7 linked regions of the Homo sapiens genome follow. The protein of the gene in region 3 purifies or fractionates together with the protein of the main gene of each other region. This does not show direct contact. Each region holds a gene or a part of one and is shown on either strand. Other genes may lie near its edges.

Region 1 (3,172 bases), on a different chromosome or scaffold from region 3:
GGAGGCTGAGGCAGGAGAATCGCTTGAACCCGGGAGGTGAAGGTTGCAGTGAGCCGAGATCGCGCCATTGCACTCCAGCCTGGCGACAAAGGGAGACTCCGTCAAAAAAAAAAAAAAAAAAAAAAAAAGAATTAGAATAGAATAGAAAAGGGTTCCAGTCGCTCCTTCACCTCGGCCACGCACTGACTCATCCACTCGGGCGCACAGCCCCTGCCAGGCCCCTCCTGCACCGAACGTTTCCACCAGAAGTCGGATACCAAGAAGCCCAAGTTCACACACGTGGATGGGTGCGCGGCACCAGATGGCCGGGACTCGGCATGGCCCCGCCCTAGCCCCACCTGGCCTGCCCCTTCTCTCCCAGAAGAGGAAAACCGCACTTTATCCAGAGCTCCAACCGGTTCGAGCACAGCCGCCAGCAAGGCCTTATCTGGCCTGGCCCCCCGCGCCGCTCAGCCTGCTGGAGGCCCCCAGCCCCAGTCCTCTCTGTGACAGCGAAGGTGTGCAAGTCCCAGTGTCCCAGTTTTATTGCAAACTCAGGCTGTGCGGGGTGGGCAATACACTGCACACGGGGCGGGACTCGGGGAAACGGGGCGTGTCCTAGGCCAAAGGGGCGGAGCTCGAGGGGCGGGCCTAGGTCAAAGCTGTGGGTAGGTCCCGAGCCTCCGAGGCCAAAGGCTCAGGCTCTAGGGAGCTAAGACTAATCCACCCAGCGGGGCTCCAGGGCAGTGGAGGCGGGGTCTAAAACAAACGGCGTACCCGGAGGGGCGGATCCTAAGGCAGGGGTGGGGTGTAGCAGGCGGGGCTGTGGTCTGGCTCAGTGGAAGGTCTCCACCTCCACCACGGTCCAGTCACCCTGCGGGGAGGCCACGTCGTCCGGAGAGAAGCTGGTGACCGAGGTGATGCTGGCACGGGACTCGTCCAGGGGAGACAGTAGTTCGGCCCAGCGGCCGAGTTCGGCGTCGCTGAGTGCAGCCCGGGCGCCCCCTGTGACGCCACCACCCTCCGCACCTCCTGGGCCCCCGCCGCTGCCGCCCGCGGCACCCTCGGCAGCCGCCAGCAGCAGCGTCCGGCTCAGCAGGTGCTGCACGACGCTCGCCTGCAGCGCCCCCAGTGGCAGCTCGCCCAGGCGCGCCTGCTTCGGGCTCCGCGAGGACGCCCCGGCCCCGGCCCCAGCCGCCGCCTTCCCACCGCTCGTGCCGGGACTGGGCCCCGGATCCAGTGCGCCAGGGGCGGGGGTCGCCGACTCGGGCCCTTCAGTCTCGTAGATGGTGCACAGACCGTCAGCAGAGCCCGGTCCGGTAGCGGGAGGCCACGGCAGGGGCGCACCTGCGGGGAGAGACGCCAGGTGGGCCGTGGGGGTGATAAGCCCCGCCCCTGCCTCAAGGTCCCGCCTCCTTGTCTAAGCTCCGCCCCGGACCCAGCTGTCCCGCCCCTGAGCTGCGAAGCCTCGCCTCCGACCCCGCCCACAGCCAGGCCGGGTCTGGGGTGCCCCTTACCTGGGGCTCCGCGGAAAGCCAGCGGCGGAGCGGGGCCTCGACTCCAGGCAGCCGGGTGGCAAGCGGCGAGCTCTGCGTCGGGGGGCGGGGAGGCTGCGGCACCGCCCTCGGGCCCGCTGTCGTAGCCACGCAGCTCCTCTGGCGTGCTCGTGGCGCTGCTGCTGTGGCCGGCCAGGTCTGGGCCGCTCAGCGTGCTGGACGGGCTGCGCGAGGGCGGCGGCGGCGGGCCGGGGGCCAACGCCAGGGTCAGCCGTGGGCCCGAGACGGAGGTATCCGGACCCGGGGTCGGGGGGCGGCGTGGGGCCTGCAGGGTGGGTGAGGCAGGGGGAGAGGGAGGGACCTGCAGAAGGGGCGCTGCCAGAACAGGTGGGGCCTGTGGAGGAGGCGTGGCCAAAGGAGACATTGGGAGTGAGGCAGAGGGTGAGAAAGGGGCCTGCCCAGGGAATGAGGCAGGCGGAGAGGGAAGGGCCTGCAGAGGAGGTGTGGCCAGAGCAGGTGGGGCCTGTGGAGGGGGCTTAGCCAAAGGAGACATTGGGAGTGAGGCAGGGGGAGAGGGCGGGACCTGCAGAGGAGGAGCGGCAAGAAGGGGTGGGACCCGTGGAGGGGGCGTGGCCGAAGGAGACATTGGGGGAGAGGCAGGGGGAGAGGGTGGGACCTGCAGAGGAGGCGCAGCGAGAGGGGGTGGGGCCTGTGGAGGGGGCGTGGCTGAAGGAGACATTGGGGGAGAGGCAGGGGGAGAGGGTGGGACCTGCAGAGGAGGTGCGGCTAGAGAGGGTGGGGCCTGTGAAGGGGGCGTGGCCGAAGGAGACACTGGGGGTGAGGCAGGGGGAGAGAAAGGGGCCTGCACTGGGGGTGAGGGAGGGGGAGAGAAAGGGGCCTGCAGAAGGTGCACTGCCAGAGCATTTGGGGCCTGTGGAGAGGGTGTGGCCAAAGGAGACAGAGGGGGTGAGGCAGGGGGAGAGGGAGGGGCCTGCAGAGGAGGCAAGGCCAGGGCAGGTGGGGCCTGTGGAGGGGGCGTGGCCAAAGGAGACAGAGGGGGAGAGGGCAGGCCCTGCAAAGGGGGTGAGGCCAGAGCAGGTGGGGCCTGTGGAGGAGGCGTGGCTATGGAAGAGGGCGTCTCCGGAGGGGGCGTGGTCAATGGCGAAGGTGGTGCTTGCAGAGGGCATGGGGCTGGACAAGGTGGAGTCTCCAGATGGGGTGTGGTCAGGGGAGCAGAAGCTGTCTGCAGAGGAGGCGGGGCTAGAGAAGGTAGGTTCTCCAGAGGGGGTGTGGTCAGGGGAGCAGAAGCTGTCTGCAGAGGAGGCGGGGCTAGAGAAGGTAGGTTCTCCAGAGGGGGTGTGGTCAGGGAAGCAGGAGGTGTCTGCAGAGAGGGTGGGGCTAGGGAAGATTGGGTCTCCAGAGGGGGCATGATCAGGGAAGAGAGAGGTGCCTGAGGAGAGTGGGAGGCCAGAGAAGATAGCGCCTGCAGAGGGTGTATGGTCAGGGGTGAGCTTAGGGGTGAGACAGCAGGAGAGAGAGAAGTCTGCAGAGGGGGTGAGGCAGGAAGGGAAAGAGGGGCCTGCAGAGGGGGTGAATCAGGGGGAGTAGAGGCCGGCCGAGAAGGTGAGATCAAAGAAGCTTGGGTTTGCCTAGGGGACATTGTCAGGAAAGAATGTGTGGCCTGCAGAGTGGGTGAG
Region 2 (3,500 bases), on a different chromosome or scaffold from region 3:
AACATGAAAGAAAAAGGACTCCAGTGGCAAGCATATACTTCAAGCCAAAGTATATGCTTGAAGAATTTGATCATTTAAATTATGTGAACTAATTATTGCAATAATGACGAGGACTTCTTTGTGGCCTTCCCATAAAGAGAATTTTATTTATTTATTTATTTTTTTTTTGAGACGGAGTCTCGCTCTGTCTCCCAGGCTAGAGTGCTGTGGCGCAATCTTGGCTCACTGCAACTTCCACCTCCCCAGGTTCAAGCGATTCTCCTGCCTCAGCCTCCCTAGTAGCTGGGACTACAGGTGCGTGCCGCCATGCCCAGCTGATTTTTTGTATTTTTAGTAGTGACAGGGTTTCATTGTGTTAGCCAGGATGGTCTCGATCTCCTGACCTCGTGATCCACCCGCCTCAGCCTCCCAAAATTCTGGGATTACAGGCGTGAGCCACCGCGCCCAGCTATAAAGAGAATTTTAAAATGCCACTTCTTTCTTAAAACCAAATCACATAAGTACAATTCTAACACTTATACTAAGCGAGTGATTTCCATCCTCCTTTGGAATTCTCTGCTTCTAGAATTGTTTCCCATATGCTTAGGATGACAAAGTATTATGGATAGAACTTCACTATAACAATGGTATCTGGGGATAAAGATAATAACTACATTTAGGTTTTCCACAATAAAATGTATTTTTCATCATGATATATCTTTTACTGCCCCTCAACCCAACAATTTGACCTAAATGGCTGCATGGGCAAGAATTTACTATTAGTTAGTCATGTTTATTTACACTTTGTCTTATTCTAAAAAAGATGAAAAGCTAAGAATCATTCAGGGGTTTTACGGTAGTAAGACTTATAAATTTACATTATTTTCTCTTCTCAAGAATAACTGCTCAAGAGTTATGGCTTAATAAAGTTCAGTCACTCAACAGATATTGAATATGTATTATGTATAAGACTGTTTCCAACTCATTAAACTACTGTGTTTCTGTGTAAAACATAGAGTTTACAAAATTTAAAATAAGTGAAGTCTAATTTCTATGTACAAAATACTGTGTACAAAATGGGATAGAGAGAAGATTAAACAAACATACAACTTGTGAAGTGACACTGTTTCTTCATAAACTTCTGGTTGAGTTTTCTAATACTTTACATCTGAACCCTCTGGCATATATTCTGAAAACTGATGTTATTAGTGATTTAGTGGCTTCAGCTGGCTGTTAAACATGGATTAAGATGGACCACCAAGTGGCTTATCCCAGTGCTGGACAAGATAACCTATCTTCAACTTACCAGCACCCGTTTACTTTTTTAAATATTTGGATTCCCGTGTTTCTTAACTGCCTTAGGCCAGGGTGCCCAAATTGCTTATAGCATTCATCTAAGGATTTAGAGAAAAAATCCAGGCTCAGCCAGAAAAGAGTATATTGACTGGTTATTGATGTCTGCCCTGATGCACCAAGGATGCATGTATTTTCTACTCCTCTTTTTTTTTTTTTTCTTTTTTTTGGAGACAGTTTCCCTCTGTTGCCCAGGCTGGAATACAATGGCGTGATCTCAGCTCACTGCAACCTCTGCCTCCTGGGCTCAAGCAATTCTTGTGCCTCAGCCTCCTGAGTAGCAGGGATTACAGGCATGCACCACCATGCCCAGATAATGTTTATAATTTTAGTAGAGATGGGGTTTCACCATGATGGCCAGGCTGGTCTCGAACTCCTGACCTCAGGTGATCTGCCCTCCTTGGCCTCCCAAAGTGCTGGGATTACAGGTGTGAGCCACTGTGCCCGGCCCTCTATTCCTAATACATGCTGGTCAGCAAATAATTGATTCTAACAGCCACAACAGAGGCAGCACAGTGTGCTTATCCCTGAAAAACCTGAGATAAAAGGCAAGAGAGAAAGGAAAAAAGGGAAAAGATAAGGAAAAAAACCAAAAAGATCATGAGAAGAAAAATAAAGACGGGAAAAGGAGAAGAGGTGGTTATACATGCCATAAAGGAGCATTAGTACTCCATGTTGATGGGTCTATGTTTCTTTCCATTTGTTATGCTCCCACCACTGACTGGCCAATCTTCTCTCTACCAATACCTGTTATAGATCAACAGATCACCATTTGCTTCTCTGAAGGCCTCCAGATGATTTCTGGATGAACCTTCCACTGTCTATTCTAAAGGCCCACGTTTTCCATTCTCCCACACTGCACTGATCCCCATGACACTTTATGTCCAGAATGCTACTCTCTGGCCATTCCTGTCATCCCCAAACATTTTTGTTTTTAATTCCAACATAACATTTTCACCTTCCAAAAACCTTTATAGAGAAGATGAAACCTTACTTTGCCCTCATGGTCTGGCAATGACATACCAATAGCTACTGATTCTCTCTAAATGTTTCCCCAAAACACTTAGCCATGAAAAAAAAAAAAAAACAATTAAGTTCAAAGGAATTTATGGGACACTCCAAATTGCAGTATAACTTTTGATGTTTTAAGCTGTGTCACCATTTTACTTTACCTGGCTTTTCTTCCTCCCCTTCAGCAAGCTTGCTTTTGGGAGGAGTTTCCCGGGTAGAATTCACAGTTCGACGAATCGGCATGGTGCTATCTTCTACCTTCTAAGAAAAGAGATGGCCATAATCAAACATGCATTAAAAAATTCTCTTTTCTCTCTTTCTCAAAGGGCCTAACTGGGTGTCAGATGTAGGAGAATTCTTCAAGTCGACTCCAGGATCTGATGCAAATTACTTTTAACAAGTTTTTTTTGAAGTGAAATATGATTTTTAAGATACACTTTTTAAAGTATGTTATTTTAGCTTGAATTTCAAATGGAAACACATAATTATAGTTGATTTGCTATAAATTTAGAAGGTTGGAGGTTTTCTCAGGAATTTGAGGGGAAAGGGAAGATGAAAAGAATCTGATTTTGTTTCAAATTCACAACCTAGACTCCCCAAAGTAAGGGAAGGAACATGTACCAAGAAGGACCCAGCAGGGCCTGAAGTCAGGGATTGATCCAAGAGTGAGCTTCAAGAATGTGTCAGCCCCTACCTCACCTAACTTGTCCGCGTGGATCAGCTGAGCTCCTACTATAAGTGGGAGTGCCTTAGGATGGACGAGTTCACCTTGAGACGTATCAGTCGCCATTTTAAATAATTTCTAGGCCCGAGTACAGGTTACACTCTGAAGCCTCTGCTGTTAACCACAAGGATTTTTCCTAATGGTTTCAGTGTGGTGAAGAATCAACCTAAAGCACAGAAAAGACCTGGTGTGAAGATTAACAGAAACAAAACTAAACTAAAACGTCTAAATTTAATACACATCCAAAGGGAAAAAATATAACTATAAAATTTATAGGTAAGTGACAGATGATTTGGTTACTCAGAAAGATAAAACTACCAAAATATAGACTACATAAAGCAGCAACTAAGACGAATGCATAAGCCACGGCAGCTGTTGCACCTTCCACATGAACAAAGACAACAAGGGCAAGGAAGCTCCTAAGGAACCTAAC
Region 3 (3,500 bases):
AGGGAGGTGGGGCCACAGCCTCGGCATGGGGGTTCCTGCTCCAGCTCCTGCCTTCCTCCTCCTCCCTGCACCCCTCACCCTCGTGTCCACCGCGGGACCCGCCCTCTGCTGTGGGCCCCGACATCCCTGAATGACACCATGCAGCCCCGCCCATGGGCCCTCGTCTGGACTGCCTCTTTCCAGACCCATCCCCCATAGCCACATGACTCACTTCTCCCCTGTCTTCGCGGCTTTTTAGGTCTTCCCTGAAATTCCAGCCTCCGCTCCTGACATTTCACGCCTCCCTTCGCTACTCTATGTTTTCCTCCTCAGCACGCCTCATGCACAATTGGTGTTTCCCTTCCTCCCTGCCTGGCTCCCCAGCTAGAATAGAAGCTCCCTGAACTTATATTTGGGGCTTCATTTGTTTCCTTCACTACCCTCAGTCAGTATTTGCATCGCGTCTTGTCTTCATGGGATGGGGTCGGGGTGGACACTGGAAAGGTGTGGCCGGGACACAGGGTTGAGACTGGTGGACAGGTAGAGTTCCCAGCCTCAGGACCTGGGGAGGCAGGATCAGGCCTGTGATAGCCCTGGCTGTTTGTTTGTTTTGAGACAGAGTCTCACTCCATTGCCCAGTCTGGAGTGCAGTGGCATGATCTTGGCTCACTGCAACCTCCACCTCCTGGGTTCAAGCTATTCTCCTGCCTCAGCCTCCCGAGCAGCTGGGATTACAGGCGTGTGCCACCACGCCTGGGTAATTTTTGTATTTTTAATAGAGACTGGGTTTCACCATGTTGGCCAGACTGGTCTCGAACTCCTGACGTCAGGTGATCCACCCACCTCGGCCTCCCAAAGTGTTGGGATTACAGGCGTGAGCCACCGCACCTGGCCTCAAATGATTTTCTTGCTTCGGTCTCCCAAAATGCTGGGATTACAGGCATAAGCCATCGCACCTGGACATATTTTTGTTTTTAAAATCATACATATATTTTTCATGCATGATTTTTCTTTCTTTTTTTTTTTTTGAGATGGAGTCTCACTCTATTGCCCAGGCTGGAGTGCAGTGGCACGATCTCAGCTCACTGCAACCTCCACCTCCTGGGTTCAACCGATTCTCGTGCCTCAGCCTCCTGAGTAGCTGGGATTACAGGCATGCGCCACCACACCTGGCTAATTTTTGTGTTTTTAGTAGAGATGGGGTTTCACCATGTTGGCCAGGCTGATCTTGAACTCCTGACCTCAAGTGATCCACCTGTCTCAGCTTCCCAAAGTGCTGGGATTACAGGCATGAGCCAGCGTGCCCGCCCCACCTTTCCCTGGCTGTTTTTGATTATAGATGGACTGGAAAAGCCATCTTGATGTCAAGCGCTCTGTCTCATTGGTTGGTTGAACACCCTGGTGATATTGGCACCTAGCTTATTTCTTATCACTTTTTCTGCTTACTTAACTCTCCCTTGACTTGCGCCCTCTGGCTGGAGTCCTGTTGAGACTGTCACTTCCTCTGTTTAACTCCTCGTGGACATGACTACCTGCTCCACTCACTCAGCCTTTGTTGATGTTCCCACTTCCCCTGTTTATTTAACTCCTCGTTGACACGATCACTTCCTCCATTTCCTTGATTCTTCTAAGTCTATAAAGTTATGGGAGGCTCCGAATTGGCTCCTGTAGTGTGGTGAGGCGTGTGGTCTGCTGACAGGTCGTAGCCTTTCCTCCTTTCTGGCTTCTCCTTTATGTACGTCTCATGACCTCAACACAAGTGGTCCAGAGAGGACAAGCAATGCCCATGAGGTCGCACAGCACATCGGGGTGTAGCACAGACATATATCAGGCCTGTGCGGCCACAAGTGGTCCATGGGGTTCCTGAGATGCTGGCATTGTGGGAGCCACCCTAAATTGTCCTCTGTTGTCTCCCTGCAGTCCTTGGATAGCTGGGGCACCTCTGAAGATGCTGACGCTCCTTCTAAGCGACACTCAACCTCTGACCTCTCAGATGCGACCTTCAGCGATATCAGGAGAGAAGGCTGGTTGTATTATAAGCAGATTCTCACCAAGAAGGGGAAGGTAAGATGGGTGGAGGAATGAGGTGGAAGCTGGCTCCAGCAGAACCCTCCAGCCTCTCCTAGGCCTACCCTGACAGCCTCTGGAGCCAGAGAGAACCAGTGTAGGTTGTTGCATGAAGGATGGAGGTTAGATGCTAGGAAGAACTTCCTGGCAGGGGGATTTAAAGAACTTATGTAAAAGAAGTTAACAAGAGAGGTGGATTTTGCTGTGGGATGGATCTGATCGAGTCGTGCTTGGAATATTCTGGCAAAACCATCCCACACGGGCCCTGGCTTGACAGGCCATCCTGAAGATGGCCGCTGGGGCTCATGGAAAACAAGGAGCAAGGCCGGGGTGATTTCCGTAGGAGAGCTAAGGCCCAAGAAGACGCAGGCAAGCCAGCAAAGGGCTTAGTGTTCATCCTAAGGGCAACCAAAAGCTCTCGGGGGCTCTTGCCAAGGGAGTTACAGCTTTAAAATATTCATTTGGCTCCCTGGGAGTGAGTTAGGGAGGGGCCATGCTGGAGGCAAGAAGACCAATTAGGAGCCACCGTGGAGATCCAGATGAGAGGCGAAGGGGGCTTCGGGGAGTAGTTGGGGAGGGCCTGGGAGGGAACCAGCAGGACTCTGAGAGGAGAAGGGCAGGGCCCCTGGATCCATGGGGTGCAAATCCTGGCCCCAGGCTGCGCTGTGGGCTGGAGAAGTGGGAGGAGAGACCACTGCCTTCCCTCCTGGCGATTAGGATGAACCCGGGTTTGACTCTTGACTGCATCACCCATTGCTCTGAGAGCCTGGGTGACTCACCTGGCCATGACTCAGTGTCCTCTCCTGTAAATGGAGCTAACAGTAATCCCTAGCTCATAAGCCTATTGCTAAGGATTAAATGAGATGATCTAAGTAAAGGGTTTACCCAGTGCCCGGCACTTGAAGCTGCTGTACTTCTGCTTACTGCTATTTGTTTTCTTTTTTTGAGACGGAGTCTCGCTCTGTTGCCCAGGCTGGAGTGCAGTGGCGCGATCTCGGCTCACTACAACCTCCACCTCCTGGGTTCAAGCAATTCTCCAGCCTCAGCCTCCTGGGTAGCTGGGACTACAGGCACTCACCACCAAACCCGGCTAATTTTTTTTTTTTTTTTTTTTGTATTTTTTTAGTAGAGACGGAGTTTCACCATGTTGGTCAGGCTGGTCTCGAACTCCTGACCTCAAATTATGTGTCTGCCTCGGCCTCCCAAAGTGCTGGGATTACAGGCGTGAGCCACCGTGCCCAGCCCGCTTACTGCTATTTGAATTTTCTACCCTGCCTTCTGGGGTCTTGGGGGTCCCTGGAAAGAACATAAGCTTTGAAGCAGACAGACTTTGAGTTCCTATCCGGCCACATATCAAGCACGTGGCTTTGGGCACCCCACTTACCTTCCCTGAGCCTCACTTTCTGATCTGTACGATGGGAACAATGTTATCCTACCCCAAGGGCTGCTGTGGA
Region 4 (3,500 bases), on a different chromosome or scaffold from region 3:
CGTGTTTCTCTAATACACTTAACATGATAGAAGCTTGGCAGTTTCCATTTCTGGATTTGATAGGGAATATTTAAGATTAAGAAAATGATGTTTGAGATGCTATCATATATATCCCACATACAGCATCTAATGGAGAAAAATATAAGCCTTCTCAGTTGTCCAAGAAAAAAGACTATGTTTTAGAATGGTACCAGCTGTGTAGTAAGAAGAATGTTTTTTATACCTTGTTTGATTAAGCACTTATTCCTTACAGAAAACAATTATGATTTTCTGTCTGGACGGAGTCAATATTTTTTAGTTGCTTTAGAATTAGTTTTTAAGATTTTACTCACTTTAGCTATATTAGGACATACTTTGAGTTGGTACAAAGCTTGAATTAAATGAGGTTGGTTCATGATGATTAAATACTACTACATAAAATTATTGCCTGTATTACTTTGCATTATCAATAATGTCTTCATTTTCACATAGGGGACTTGTCTTTGACACACTGTATGGAAATCTTTTGAAAGTCGATGCCTATGGAAACCTCTTGGTCTGTGCACATGGATTTAACTTTATAAGGGGGTGAGTACAGAGAACCTTTAGCCTCTTTCTAATGTTAAAGTCAAACAATGTGAAGATGACATCATCTCCCCAGATGTAATATATTTCCCTATTACTTTTCATCATTAAAGAGCAAATTCCCTTACATAAGGTTAGTTAACAGTTATTTATTAGGCAGTTGGAACCCAAACTGACATATAGTTAGCAATTACATTTTGTTTAAATTAAGTGCCTTCCAATTATACAGCATACAACAAAACTAATCTTAAAACTTGCCCAGAAGAACTTTAGTAGTTTTGACTTATTTGAAATTCTAAGATTTTTATTTTCTTCTTTCTAATACAGTTCTCAGGTAGCTGTTCAGAAGAGGTATGTATATAAAAATGCTTTGAAAAAATTTTAAACTATAGCAATTTAAATGATTAAGAGATTTTTAATAGCCAATACGTTTTTTAGATTCTAATGAATCTAAACTTTGAATCCTGACATTTGATTGTGTCATTAAAAAAATGTAAACATAAGGTTAAAGTGAATATGTGCTAATAATATTTTAAACAAATAAGAATAAGCTTTATTTTCAAAATAAAAATATTTCCACTATTGTCACTAATTTGAACTTTTTACCCTAGTAAACAGCAGATGAAATTTAGTATCTACTATTTTTTTGTGAAATGTCCCGATATTTTCAAATCATAATGCCACAATTTGACAACTTCTGTAGCTATAGCTTTACTGTTATACATTTTCTCTACTGTTATGCCACCTTATTTACTATTGACATTGTATTAAGGTCAGAACAACAGCTCGTAAAACCAGAATAGGATGTGTGTCAGTCTCTTATGTAACTTTTCCATTTACTATTCATTCTTGATGGCAGAATAGGAAAAACACCAGGCTACATTGAAATGTTTAAAAAGACAATGTCTTTTTTTGTGATAAGAGGCACAAACCAACTGTAATTGTACCAGAGCTTCCTTTAGATTTGAGGTCACAGGATGCCCCTTAGAATTGAAGCATCTAAGACTCTTTAGTTGGCATTACTGACATTACACAGGCTCAGAGATTTCCATGTATACATGAGAACGGTGTGAAGTAAACACCCATCTTGACACATCTGAGCAGGCCAGTGATTACATCCACATTTCTTTCACTGTTTCTTTCATGAGGGGGTTTGTTCAGGATCCATGAAAATATCAGGAAACAGGATTTAGAATATGAAGTAATTACAGGTTGTACTAGTAACTTAAGCTATTTTATACACAGATATTGTCATCATAACTCAGAATCTCAATGAAGATGAACCAGGGTTCTATTATGTCTAAAAAGGAATTTTTGTATTATAAGGGAGGGGTAGGCAGAGAAGAAAAGAGAAGCAGTTGGATAAGTTAGTACTACGATCAAATTTCCAACTCAAGATCCACAGACTTCCTCTCTTCCCTTAAATAAGCCAATAAAGTTTCCACATAGCTCCTTTGCTAATGCATTTAATAGTGTTTCAAAAATAAGTCATTTATGAGTAAATGCAGAATCATTCAAATAGCACTTAGCACTGTGCAGTCTTTAGAGTTAAACAGAAAAGCTGGCCAGGCACAGTGGCTTACGCCTATAATCTCAGCACTTTGGGAGGACAAGGCAAGAAGACTTCTTGAGCCTAGGAGACCAGCCTGGACAATAAAGTGAAACCCTATCTCTACAAATATCAAAAATTAGCTGGGCATGGTGGTACATGCCTTTGGTCCCAGCTATATGGGAGACTGAGGCAGGAGGAGTGCTTGAGCCCAGGAGGTTGAGGCTGCAGTGAGCTGTGTTGGTGCCACTGTAGTACAGCCTGTGTAACAGAGCAAGACCCTATCTCAAAAAAATAAAAATAAATTAATAAAATTAAAATTCCCATGAAAAGAAGAGACTGAAGATAGAGGGAAAGAAAGTTATCGAAGCTATTACAGTGGTAGACAAGGCTGGAAAAGAAGGACTCCATCAGGCTTTGCTAATGAGTTAGGACCTTATTTTTTGATAAATTTTTATTCTGTGGGTCACAGAAAGTTAGTAGTAATCTGTGCTGTAACTGTTTTCTTCCCATTCCAAGTGTAGCATTTCTTTTATGATATATTACCTCCCCCAAATTGATTTTTATTTTAAATATATACTAGTGTGATTTGACACTGAAGTTTACAATGTAATTGCTAACTATATTTATAAATCAATTTGGGTTCTAACTGCCTAATAAATGTTAACCATCTTTATGTAAAGGAATTTTTCTTTAATGATGGAGGGAATAGGGAAGTATATTGTATCTAAGGAGACAGTGTCAGCTTATTAAATCTAACTGAAGAAAGTATATTTTTACTGTTACCTTCCACCTTACTTTTATTAAAGAAAATCTTGGAAAGCTAGAAGATAAGATACTCTACAAAGTTATTCATTATTGGGAACTCTCATCTCAGAAGAGTGACTTAAGACAGGGAGCTAATGTGATTTTTATATGTCTAACTAGAGTTTATGCCATTTGTAGTTAACAAACCCAGGCAGGAATTAATCCAGGTCACTCTGAGTGTGAGCTTTAAATTTGATTTCCTTTATTTACATTGTTAATCTCCATGTATTCACTGTCAGAACTGTGCATTTTTATATTTTAGTATTTTTCCCTTTGAGTTTCTCTGAAATGTTTTCTTCTAGAAGTGTTTTTGCATCTTTAACAAATTCTGCTTCACTGGCTTTTTTCTTTTAAACCTTGAATTTTCTTCATGGTTCTGTTCTGTCTCTTCTCTTCCTTCTCTGCACACTAAGTGGTTTCATCTCCTCTAATACTTTTCATGATTCCATCTAGTATCTGTACGTAGATGATCTCAGTTATCTCTCAAGGCTGAATCTCTTTTAAGTTCTTGACCTTTGTTTCTAATTGCCTAATAAAAATCAGTTTACTTCAAACTTAGTATCACTAAAATAGAACTACT
Region 5 (3,500 bases), on a different chromosome or scaffold from region 3:
CGAGACCAGCCTGAACAACATGGCGAAAGCCTGTCTCTACAAAAAAAATACAAAAATTAGCCAGGTGTGGTGGCACATGCCTGTAACCCCAGCTACTCAGGGGGCTGAAGTGGGTGGATTGCTTGAGCCTGGGAGGCAGAGGTTGTAGTGAGCCGAGATCGGTCCACTGCATCCAGCCTGGGTGACAAAACTAGACTCTGTCTCAAAAAATACAAATATAAAAGAGCCAAAACAAAAAATGGGGTTTGTACTTATACATTATATTTTTCCTTTTATGAGGTCGCCTGGTCACAGCATGAACTGAAGAATGTAACATCGGGTGCTCCCATCATGCTTTCTGTCCTGATAATGTTTGCTGTACATCTCTGCTTAGGCACTCACATCTCATAATTATTCCAAAATATAATGTTTTGCTTAAAAAAAATGCTCATTTCACGTAAAAAAATCCCCCAAATATGCTGCAAATGTTACTGTCCATCTGTGCATATTTGCAGGTGTCAAACAACTGGTGAGTGCTGACAATGCATTATTATGTACCTAGATGATTCAGGGATAATTTATTAGTAATATTTCCCCAATTTATGATTATCTAAAGTATGCACTTACAAATGTGCAATACCATTTCAGCCATTAATGGCAAAGTTAGCCAAATAAATGATCATTTATCAAAACCCAGAAACCGACACAGGCACAATCTACTTAACATTTCAAAATTAAGTTACCACTAATAGAAGCATTACAATTTTTCCACTGGATTATAATGGGAAATCATGGTTTATGTAAGTTTTGGCCTATGAAAAAAACATTTTATAATCACTTATAAAACACATTTTGTTTTTTGTTTTTTAGGGACAGGATAGGGTCTTGTTCTGTTGCTCTGGCTGGAGTGCAGTGGCGCAATCACAGCTCGCTGCAACTTCTAACTCCTGGGACCCAATGATCTTCCTGCCTCAGCCTCTTGAGTAGCTAGGACTATAGATGTGCGCTACCACACCTTGCTAATTTTTTTTATTTCACATGTCTTCCTGAAAAAGCCTACTGCTACAGTTAATTTTATGGTACTACATTAAATCATCTTATAAGTTTATAAAACTTCTTTATCAAGGCTTTTGAGAAAAGATCCTATGGCTCACAAGTACTACAGAAGTACAAGCAATGGGGCAATCGGAGCAAGTACAGAAACATTTGTTGTGTACTTAAAAAGCCTTTTCACTATTAAGGCCTACTAATCATCATGATGCCAGTTTTGTTATAAACAGGGAAATACAGGTGATACTGTGATACTGGATACATTATTAGGAATAAATCCAGAAGTGATTTCTGCATATTATAGACACACTCCCTTGAGCTATCTTCACAATCTTATCACACTTAAAATTCTAGGAATTTTAATTTTGTGAAATTCAGCAATTTTAGTTGATAAAACTTAAATGCAAACTCTTAGGACTTGTCATTTGTCATAACTTTATGTAAATACACCTCTTTCTTTTAATAAACACATACTTCAAAATTTTTAACATTTTAATCTATTTAAAATTTATATATTTTTTGGTGCTCAGTATGAGGGAAAGAATCTAGAGTGACTTTCTCCAAATGATCAGGCAACATTATTAATTGGAACAGACAGCCTTCTCTCCACTAATTTAAAATAATACCTTTATCATCTACTAAATTCTTTTAAGATGAATTCTTGCTCTGTTGCCTAGGCTAGTGTGCAGGGCCGCAATCACAGCTTGCTGCCACCTTAACCTCCTGGGCTCAAGCAATCCTCTAGCTTCAGCCTCTCAAGCTGATAGGCGCACACATCACGCCCAACTAATTTTTAATTTTTTTAGAGACAGGGTCCTGGTATGTTGCCCAGGCTAGTCTCAAATCCCTGGCTTCCATCTTGAACTCGCAAAATGTTAGGGTTTCAGGCATGAACCACTGCACCCAGGATAAATTCTTATTTATACTCGGATCTGTTTCTGCCTGCCTATTGCTTTCTATTCATCTCTTTCTTTTTTCCTGCATTGCTACATTTTATTATCATGTCAGTAAACCCATTACTTTTATTTTTCAAATATGTCCAGCCACACTTCCATGTTTATTTTAAAGATAAACTGTTTTACTAAGTTCTCCTACTATTCTATTTGCATTGATTTTTAATTAATTTGCAATAAATTTGTTAACTATGAGGAGTAAAGTCTTCCCAACATCTTTTTTTTTTGGGGGGGGACAGGGTCTTGGTTCTGTCGCCCAGGCTGGAGTGAGGTAGTGCAGTTAGGGCTCACTGCAGCCTCGGCCTCCTGGGCTCAAGTGATCCTCCTGTCTCAGCCTCTTGAGTAGCTAGGACCACAGGTGTCCACCATCATACTCTGCTTATTTTTAAAATTTTTTGGTAGAGATGAAGTTTCACTACGTTGCTCAGGCTGGTCTCAAACTCGTGGGCTCAAGTGATCATCCTGGCTTTGCCTCCCTAAGTGCTGGTACTGTTCTTGTTCTTCTATCTAGCAATAAGATATGTTTTTTCCATTACATGCAACTTTTATGTCCCTGTCTTACATTATTTATCATAGAAGTTGGTCATATTTCTTAGTATGACCAACTTATTTCTTATTATATATTTTGTATACAATTTCTATTTTGCATTACTGTAATCATCTTTTCTCCTCATTACATAATCAATGGATTAGGCTTTAGGACTATTAAATTTTTTTTTTTTTTAAGATGGAGTCTCGCTCTGTCGCCCAAGCTGGAGTGCAGTAGCGTGATCTCGGCTCACTGCAACCTCTGCCTCCCGGGTTCTCCCACCTCAGCCTCCTGAGTAGCTGGGATTACAGGTGCACGCCACCATGCCCGGCTAATTTTTGTATTTTTAGTAGAGATGGGGTTTCACCATGTTGGTTGGCCAGGCTGGTCTCGAACCCCTGACCTCAGGCGATCCGCCTGCCTTGGCCTCCCAAAGTGCTGGGATTACAGGCATGAGCCATCGTGCCCGGCCAGAACTATTGACTTTTGTATATTTAATTTACATTTTGCCTGTGCCTAATTTAAGTTCCTTATTAGTTCTCATTCTTCATGAATAATGCTAATTTCAATATTTATGCTTCTTTTTCATGTGTTCCTGATTTAACTAAAAATTCCAGAATAGGCCGGGCACTGTGGCTCATGCCTATAATCCCAGCACTTTGGGAGGCCAAGGTGGGTGGATCACTTGAGCCCAGGAGTTCCAGACCAGCCTTGGCAACATGGCGAAACCCCGTCCCTACAAAACTAGCTGGTGGTGCTTGCTTGTGATCTCAGCTAATTGGGAGGATGGCCTGAGCTCAGGAGGTAGAGGCTGCAGTGAGCCATGATCACACCACTGCATTCCAGTCTGGGAGACAGAGCAGGACCCTATCTCAAAAAACAAACAAACAATCTTTAGAATGTTTAAAAATTAAGCAAGTAGGCTGGACGCAGTGGCTCACATCTACAATCCCAGCACTTTGGGAGGCCAAGGCAGGTGGATCACTTGA
Region 6 (3,030 bases), on a different chromosome or scaffold from region 3:
TTGCCTGATTTGCTTGTCTAAATGCTGTTTTTCCAAAAGTGCAATTTGGAATATGGCCTGAAGAAGTGTTCTATATATTTTCCTTTTCTTTCCTCCCCACCCCCAAAACTCCTTTTCCTTTCTTAAATTTAGCCTTAGTTTTGAGCTGTTCTTTGTTAAGTACAGTTTTTGTTTGGTACACATTTGTCCATGTTTCACAGATGAATATGCATAAGCTTTAGAAACAGAAATATTTATAACAGGTAGATTACAACTTTTTGATACTATCTTTATTTAGCTACAGCTCCTTCTATTCACATCTGGGATGCAATGAACAAGCAGACTTTATCTATCCTAAGATGCTACCATTCAAAGGGAGTATGTTCAGTCAGCTTCAGTGCTACTGGCAAACTATTGCTGTCTGTGGGACTAGACCCAGAACATACTATTACCATTTGGAGATGGCAGGAAGGTAGGATTCTTTTGTGTGTTTGATTTTTAAAAAAACAAGAATACAAAGGTAGTAGGAATTCTGTATTTAATATTTGTCTTAAAGTTGGTGGTTGAAACAATCATTCAGTGGAGGCCTATGCAATATACTGTACACAGTGGTACTGTAGGTATATTTCACTTTAAAAGCCCAGTGGAACTGTAACCTCACAAAACAGATAAATTAATGAAACCATTATTAGCATTATAAATGATTCACTGCTATTTTCTTCCAGCAAGAAACTATGTATTTATTATTAATGATTTGATTGGTTTTGGAGATTCTTATGAAAATTATGTATATTTCTAATGATAATGGCAGATCAGCAGGATAATATTACCTACCACACTTTAGACAAAACATTTACGTTATATAAAGAAAAGTTAATGGAGCGAAGATAAGTGAAAAGGACTCAATACACAAATAATTGTAAATCATGTATTGCTAGGTAGTAGAGCAGGGGCCATTGGCCTCTCTTCTAAGCCTTTGTTTTTTGAACTATGTATTTTACATATTTGTTTGATGCTGTTGATTAGCTTGGTTCTTGTAATAACCTAGATAATTTTGTTGTATCTTGTCAGGTGCCAAAATTGCCAGCAGAGCTGGTCACAATCAACGTATTTTTGTGGCAGAATTCCGACCAGATTCAGATACCCAGTTTGTCTCAGTGGGAGTAAAACATGTGAAGTTCTGGACCCTGGCAGGAAGAGCTCTTCTTAGCAAAAAAGGGCTACTGAGCACACTGGAAGATGCCCGGATGCAGACCATGCTCGCTATTGCATTTGGTGCAGTATGTCTCTTAAAATGCACATAGTGTGACTTTGACTACTTTACATTCTCTTGCCTTAGATCATCAGCCACATGAATGTTGTTGAGATGATACTGTGATCTGCTAATCATTACATGCCCTGGTCAAGCATATATTTCATCTTTCAAAAATCTAGTTCTTTCAGAAATTAGGGAGTGAAAAGAATGTTAATGAGAGGGGGAAAAGGATTTTTTTTTTTTTTTGACACAGTATCTCACTCTGTCGCCTGGGCTGGGGTGCAATGGTGCGATTATAGCTCACTGTAGCCTCCATCTCCCAGGTTCAAGTGATCCTCAGCCTCCTTAGTAGCTGGGACTACAGGGCAGGAACCACCATGCTAGGCTAATTTTTCTTTCATTTTTAGTAGAGACAGGGTTTCGCTATGTTGCCTAGGTGGTCTCAAGCTCCTAAGCTATGTGATCCTCCCATCTTGACCTCCCAAAGTGCTGGGTTTACAGGCATGAGCCACCATAATAAGGATTCTGATGAACATTTGATTCCTTGGACTACTGTTATACTCAAAAGCCTTCCTTAATCTTCTAATTGTCACCCTAAATATCCTAAAATTTCTGTCTTCCTAGTAGTTCTTCATAGTCCTAAAAATTTGTCAGAGAGAAAGGTAAATCAAGAAACATGATTTTCAAATGATTTAAGGTGGTACTAGGGTTTAGGATTTCCTTTGCTTTTTATCATTTAACACACTGCTTATCATACAGCTGGAAGTGCTCTGGGCCAGTGTCTCTACTTCGAGGGAAGAAGGAGGTAGTGAGACAGAAGGAAATAGCACAATTCCTGGCCCTGACAGAAGGGTGTTCAGGAGACCTGCTCTCCTCTCACTTTATTCCATCTCATCTGGACCTGTGGCTTCCAATCCACATCTCTTTCCTTTAATATCCTGCATTGGCTAGGCTGTATAAATCCTTTGGTGCATCGAAAAACTAAGTGCATTTTTTGTTTTTGTGATTATGCAATACTTATAGGAAAAGTTATAATTTTAGAATATTTAAGTACACTTACATTTTTGAGAAAAAGACTATTGAAATGTTTGTGCCATGTCAAATTTCAGTTGAACATTTTGGGTATTCTTAATATAAGACCAGGCCAGGCACCGTGGCTCAGGCCGGGCACAGTGGCTCACACCTATAATCCCAGCACTTAGGGAGGCCAAGGCGGGAAGATCACCTGAAGTCAGGAGTTCAAGACCAGCCTGGCTAACAAGGTGAAACTCTGTCTCTACTAAAAATACAAAAATTAGCCGGGCGTGGTGGCTGGCGCTTGTAATCCCAGCTACTTGGGAGGCTGAGACAGGAGAATCACTTGAACCTGGGAAGCAGAGGTTGTGGTGAGCTGAGATCGCACCATTGCACTCCAGCCTGGGCAACAAAGAGCGAAACTCCGTCTCAAAAAAATAAAAAATAAACCCTAGAATTATAGTATGTTAGAATTGGAAGGGAAGAATTGTCTAAGGTTATTCTAGCTAATAAGCAACAGACTTGGAAAGGAAAAGGTCCTGACAAAGCTAAGCCTCCCGTTCAGGTTTCCTGACTCGTGAATTCAGTGCTGCTGCCACTACACGATGCATGCTCTTTGTATCAAGGGTGAGACAGCATTACACATACATAGAAAATTATCTATTTAAACTCTATTTGAACTTTTGATGAGTTTGTCTCCCCCTCCCCCACTCCTTTTCAGAATAACTTGACGTTTACAGGTACCATCAGTGGTGATGTCTGTGTGTGGAAAGATCACATAT
Region 7 (4,281 bases), on a different chromosome or scaffold from region 3:
AGCACTGATTGTTCTCCGATGCTGGCTTTTTATGGACTTAATAGTCTGGAACATGCAATCCAACAGTCTCAATATAACCCTGGACCTCAACTTAGAAAATCAGTTCTTTTCCAAATAGACATCCTACATAGGATAATTTTTTAAAAACATGAACTGGCATTTTGGTACAAGCAATTGGTAAAGTCGGTAACACCAAAATAGTTTTTTGATTAAAAACAAGAAAGTTGACCATGCTGTACGGATTCTCTTACTGACAGCTACTTCCCTACAGGTTTTCGCATCTCCAATTTCTAGCACTGTCAAAGAGAAAAAGATTAGGTGTAACTACAAATTAGCAACTATCAGGAAGAGAGAAAGCCCGCATAAGAGGTAATACCTAGTCACCAACAGTGACCATTCTAGACCAAGGTTGGTTATCCCCGGATGACTCGCTGGACAGGCTGTAAATGGAGTCCTGAGTCTAGTCAGAGTGGTGCTGGTGGCTCCACAGAAAGGAGGAAGAGCCAAGAAAGAAAATGGCTGGATAAACGGAATCTGCAAAGTAAGGTAGGGAATGGGCACTTTTAGGAGCTGAGAAGTGAACTAGGTTAGGCAGTCAAAATGGCTTGATGTAAGTCAAGAATTACAAGCTAAGCTTCCTTATTCAAGAGGAAAACATTGTCTAGAGCCGTACCACCCTGAAAGTGCTCGATCTCCTCAAAAGAAAACATCAACCACCCACACAAATAAATGCCACTGTCAACAAAACCACCAAATCAACCGTGCTGACGTACATACGTCATCAGAGTGTTTCTCCAGACACTATCCCTTTACCACGAAAGAGCAAACGGTGACAAAAGTTTCTGTAGAAACCAAACTCCTGGAGCACTTTTATAATGTCCACTTATCTAAGAACCACCACAATACAGAACTTTAAAGAGAGAAATCAACAATATGTTCTCACTTAAAATGCGCTGGATGTCATGACCCACCCCACTAACGTCCTGGCTAAATGATGAAAGGACGTTCAGCCTTTTCCTTCCTTTTTCATTTTCTCTTTAAGGAAACACTGATAGTTCCTAAAATAAGCACCATTAGGAAGAGAATACTTAAGTTCACTCATTTGACATTCCCACAAAATCAGTACCTGAAAGCAAGCTACCTACCACAAAATAAGCACCATTATGAGAATACATAAGTTCACTCACCGGATATTCCTACAACGTCAGCACCTGCAAGCATGCTACCTACGACTTAAGCAACCCCTAAGTACGGGAAGATGTTTAAAAACCAAAGTTAACTCGAAATTTTATGGATTAGAAAATGTATGTCTACTAGCTACGGTCAGAAAGACACGTGAGAACTATTAAATTATAACAAATGCTCAAGTGTCTGAAGAAATAGACTGAACTACTGATGCACGAACACAGTGAGTTATTCCAAGCAATCTGAATAAGGTCAACGATTTTACAGCAATGAAAATTCTCTAAACGTGTCGCTGACAAAGGATAAAAGTGTAAGCTTCACTTTAAAAAGACACAAATCAATATAGTCTCCTATCACACATTAAGTGAGGAATCCTAACTTTGTGGCACTTTGTAAACTTTAGAAGCGTACACAATGCTAAGGGTAAAACAGATCTTGGTATTGATAGCCAAGTTTCTGCCCGATCACAAGGCTGCAATGCATCTTGGGATTCCTTCAGGACGGTTGGGGGCCACGGACAGTTTAAACCGTAATTACAGTTTCAATAGTAGAAAACGCAGCAGAAGACGCTCTCTCGGCTGGGCCTAAGGTGAAAGGAAAACTCGGCCATTCGTCCTCCCCAACTCCTGGGATCTCTAAACGCCCACCCAAATGACTCCTGGCTCCATCTGTCCTCATTCTGCGCCTCGTGGCAGGGATCCGCCGCGGCCCCCACTCCGTTCCATACGGTTCCCATCTCAAGTGGGTAACTGCGGACTCCAGAGCAGGGCAGGGGCGCGGAGGGGCGGCACTCGGGTCCGGGTCTTTGGGCGCGCTGCCCGCTGTCCGCTCCCCGCCCGGCCACCGCCGCGGGCCGCCCCGCGAAGGCCGGCTCCCGGGCTCGGGGCGCCCCACCCAGGCAGACGGCGCCACTGTCAGCGCCCCACGTGCCGACCGGGCCCCAGGGCCGCGCGCCCCCGGACCGCACCCCTACGCCATGTGGGCTCCGGCGCCCGGCCGGACTTCCTCCCGCGTCCCGGGCCTTTACCCGCACGGCCTCCCGCGCCGCTGCCGGCTCCGTGGTTATTGGCGGCGCCGCCAACTGGGGGTGGCGGCGCTGCCGGGCCCCGCAGGAAGGACGGCACGAACTCGGCGGCGTGGACGTTGGGCACGAAGGGCTTGGCGTTGACGTTGAGTTGCCGGCTGAAGGCCGCGCTGAGGTTCTCCCGCTGGGCCTCGGCCGCCGCCGCCAGGGAGCCGCCGCCGCCGCAAGGGCCCGGCCCGGGGGCTTCCATGTCCGCCTGGTCCCAGCAGTCAGGCGCCGAGTCGCTGCTGCTGCTGCCGCTGCTGCTCCCGCCGCCGCCGCCGCCGCCGCCGCCGCCGCCACTGCCCGGATCCATGATCGGGGGGGCCGTGTGTGTGGTGGACAGAGAGCGGGAAATGGAGGCAGGGGCGCCCGGCCGGAGAGGAGTGGGCAACGCTGACTGAGGGAAGGCGGCGGGGCAGAAGGGCCGGGAGCTAGCGACAAAGATCCCCGGCGTCGCCGCGGCAGCAGCTCCAGTCCCGACTCCACACTCGCGACGACGACAGAGGCGGCGGCGGCGGCAGCTCAACCCTCCTCCTCGTGTGTGTGAGCGGATCTCCTCCCACCCAACCACCTCCGACGGCCTCACAGCCAACCCCACCCCCGGCGCGGATTGACCCCTCGCCGCCACCCGTACCTTCGCCTCGGTAGTTCTCTGTTCTGGCCGCCCCCGTTTCCGGCTATTTAGCGCGGCGGGAGGTGGAACTACAAGTTCCGGCAGCGCCCGCGCTACCCCGCTGCGGTTTTCCCGGGGGCCGACGGGAGTCGAAGTTCAGGGACAGGGCGCAACCGGAAGCGGCTCCGGCTCCCGGCAGGCAACGCGAGGAGGCGGAGGTCTGGTGGCCGCTCGGCGGCCCCACCTGTCACCTGGTGGGGGGGCAGCGGCAGGCCCTGGTTGGTGCAGCTCTGTGCTGGGCCGAAGACCGAGAGTATTTTAGCCCATAGGAGGGGTCCACTCTGGCCTGCTGGACACAGGCTGGGGGAAAACGGACAGCATCTATAACATGGGGAAGAAAAATACACTCAGCTCCCGAAAATTCTTGTACTCTCTTTTCACCACCTTTCCTGCGTTCTCTGCCTCACAGTCTCCGTACCTTATTCTCTCTCCACCTTCTTTCTCCTCACCCCCAGCCAGATTTTGCCCTTCATTTCAAAGCCGGTGCAGATTGCAAAGCTGATTTCATTTTATGTAATCATTTCGTGGAAGAAACAATAAAACCGTGAGATATTCCGGCTTAAAACTGCAGTGTGGCTCATAAAGCGCTGGGGCCCAGGCTCTGCCCAGGCAGAAGGGATTGTTAACTGGAAAATTTCAATGACTCACCGTTTGTTTGACTAGTCATATAAAGCCTTCACCCAAATTTTTCCATCCTTTCCTCCTCCCCGCCAAAGGGTTTGCAAATTAAACAGAGGATTGCCGTATTCCATGGTGTATCCGGCTTACCTAACAGGGTTATTTTGGTGAGTCTAGCTTCCTTATGCACCATTACGTGAAGTGGTTTCCTTTTGAATGGTCTGATTTGCTCAAGAATTCCCATAGTACTTTTCATCGACTGCATCTTACACTTACAGATTAGGTAAACCTGGGAAAAGAACAAAAGCAAACGAGAAATACTTAAGAGTTCGCATTTAGGCCCTTCATGAAGTAGGAAAAAATGTTGCTCTGAGTACCTGTTAAGCTTTCCTGTAATTCACCCATGTGGAGCCCAAGACAGAGAAAAACATATTGTTAGTATTTTTCTGAAAGGAGTCTAGACAGGGTGCAACTAATCTGCCTAGAAATTACAGACTAAAGAAGCACATACATAGAATAGATGTTTCTGAACAACCTTAGGTTGTTAAAAAAAAAAAAAACCTAACAAAATCCAGATCTAGATCTGTATTTTAATTTTCTTTTTTCTTTTTTTTGAGACGGAGTCTTGCTCTGTAGCCCAGGCTGGAGTGCAGTGGCGCGATGTCGGCTCGCTGCAAGCCCGCCTCCCGGGTTCACAACATTCTCCTGCCTCAGTCTCCGGAGTAGCTGGGACTAGAGG

Evidence for each region.
Region 1: the proteins of ARHGAP23 (region 3) and PRR36 purify together in Homo sapiens (affinity purification with mass spectrometry, with the first as the bait; one large-scale study listed by BioGRID). This does not show direct contact.
Region 2: the proteins of ARHGAP23 (region 3) and HP1BP3 purify together in Homo sapiens (affinity purification with mass spectrometry; one large-scale study listed by BioGRID and IntAct). This does not show direct contact.
Region 4: the proteins of ARHGAP23 (region 3) and NT5C2 purify together in Homo sapiens (affinity purification with mass spectrometry; one large-scale study listed by BioGRID and IntAct). This does not show direct contact.
Region 5: the proteins of ARHGAP23 (region 3) and LSM14A purify together in Homo sapiens (affinity purification with mass spectrometry; one large-scale study listed by BioGRID and IntAct). This does not show direct contact.
Region 6: the proteins of ARHGAP23 (region 3) and ZC3H14 purify together in Homo sapiens (affinity purification with mass spectrometry, with the first as the bait; one large-scale study listed by BioGRID). This does not show direct contact.
Region 7: the proteins of ARHGAP23 (region 3) and GSPT1 purify together in Homo sapiens (affinity purification with mass spectrometry; one large-scale study listed by BioGRID and IntAct). This does not show direct contact.

The regions. Positions count from the first base shown.
Region 1 is NC_000019.10:7,868,219-7,871,390, forward strand, and holds the end of PRR36 (proline-rich protein 36), read right to left. Parts: coding exon 1,497-3,172; intron 1,327-1,496; coding exon 815-1,326; 3' UTR 501-814; downstream 1-500.
Region 2 is NC_000001.11:20,777,308-20,780,807, forward strand, and holds part of HP1BP3 (heterochromatin protein 1-binding protein 3), read right to left. Parts: intron 3,234-3,500; 5' UTR 3,134-3,233; coding exon 3,038-3,133; intron 2,605-3,037; coding exon 2,505-2,604; intron 1-2,504. UniProt on the Homo sapiens protein: Component of heterochromatin that maintains heterochromatin integrity during G1/S progression and regulates the duration of G1 phase to critically influence cell proliferative capacity.
Region 3 is NC_000017.11:38,469,964-38,473,463, forward strand, and holds part of ARHGAP23 (rho GTPase-activating protein 23), read left to right. Parts: intron 1-1,899; coding exon 1,900-2,043; intron 2,044-3,500.
Region 4 is NC_000010.11:103,102,773-103,106,272, reverse strand, and holds part of NT5C2 (cytosolic purine 5'-nucleotidase), read left to right. Parts: intron 1-471; coding exon 472-567; intron 568-891; coding exon of another isoform or gene 892-915; intron 916-3,500. UniProt on the Homo sapiens protein: Broad specificity cytosolic 5'-nucleotidase that catalyzes the dephosphorylation of 6-hydroxypurine nucleoside 5'-monophosphates.
Region 5 is NC_000019.10:34,210,504-34,214,003, reverse strand, and holds part of LSM14A (protein LSM14 homolog A), read right to left. Parts: intron 1-3,500. UniProt on the Homo sapiens protein: Essential for formation of P-bodies, cytoplasmic structures that provide storage sites for translationally inactive mRNAs and protect them from degradation. Acts as a repressor of mRNA translation. May play a role in mitotic spindle assembly.
Region 6 is NC_000014.9:88,625,067-88,628,096, reverse strand, and holds the end of ZC3H14 (zinc finger CCCH domain-containing protein 14), read right to left. Parts: coding exon of another isoform or gene 2,970-3,030; 3' UTR 1,260-2,969; coding exon of another isoform or gene 1,051-1,259; 3' UTR 501-1,050; downstream 1-500. Other genes in the region: EML5 (echinoderm microtubule-associated protein-like 5), read left to right, coding at 278-451, 1,051-1,259, 2,970-3,030. UniProt on the Homo sapiens protein: RNA-binding protein involved in the biogenesis of circular RNAs (circRNAs), which are produced by back-splicing circularization of pre-mRNAs.
Region 7 is NC_000016.10:11,913,157-11,917,437, forward strand, and holds the start of GSPT1 (eukaryotic peptide chain release factor GTP-binding subunit ERF3A), read right to left. Parts: upstream 2,801-4,281; 5' UTR 2,565-2,800; coding exon 2,213-2,564; intron 2,057-2,212; exon of another isoform or gene 1,864-2,056; coding exon of another isoform or gene 1,833-1,863; exon of another isoform or gene 1,222-1,832; coding exon of another isoform or gene 1,188-1,221; intron 1-1,187. UniProt on the Homo sapiens protein: GTPase component of the eRF1-eRF3-GTP ternary complex, a ternary complex that mediates translation termination in response to the termination codons UAA, UAG and UGA.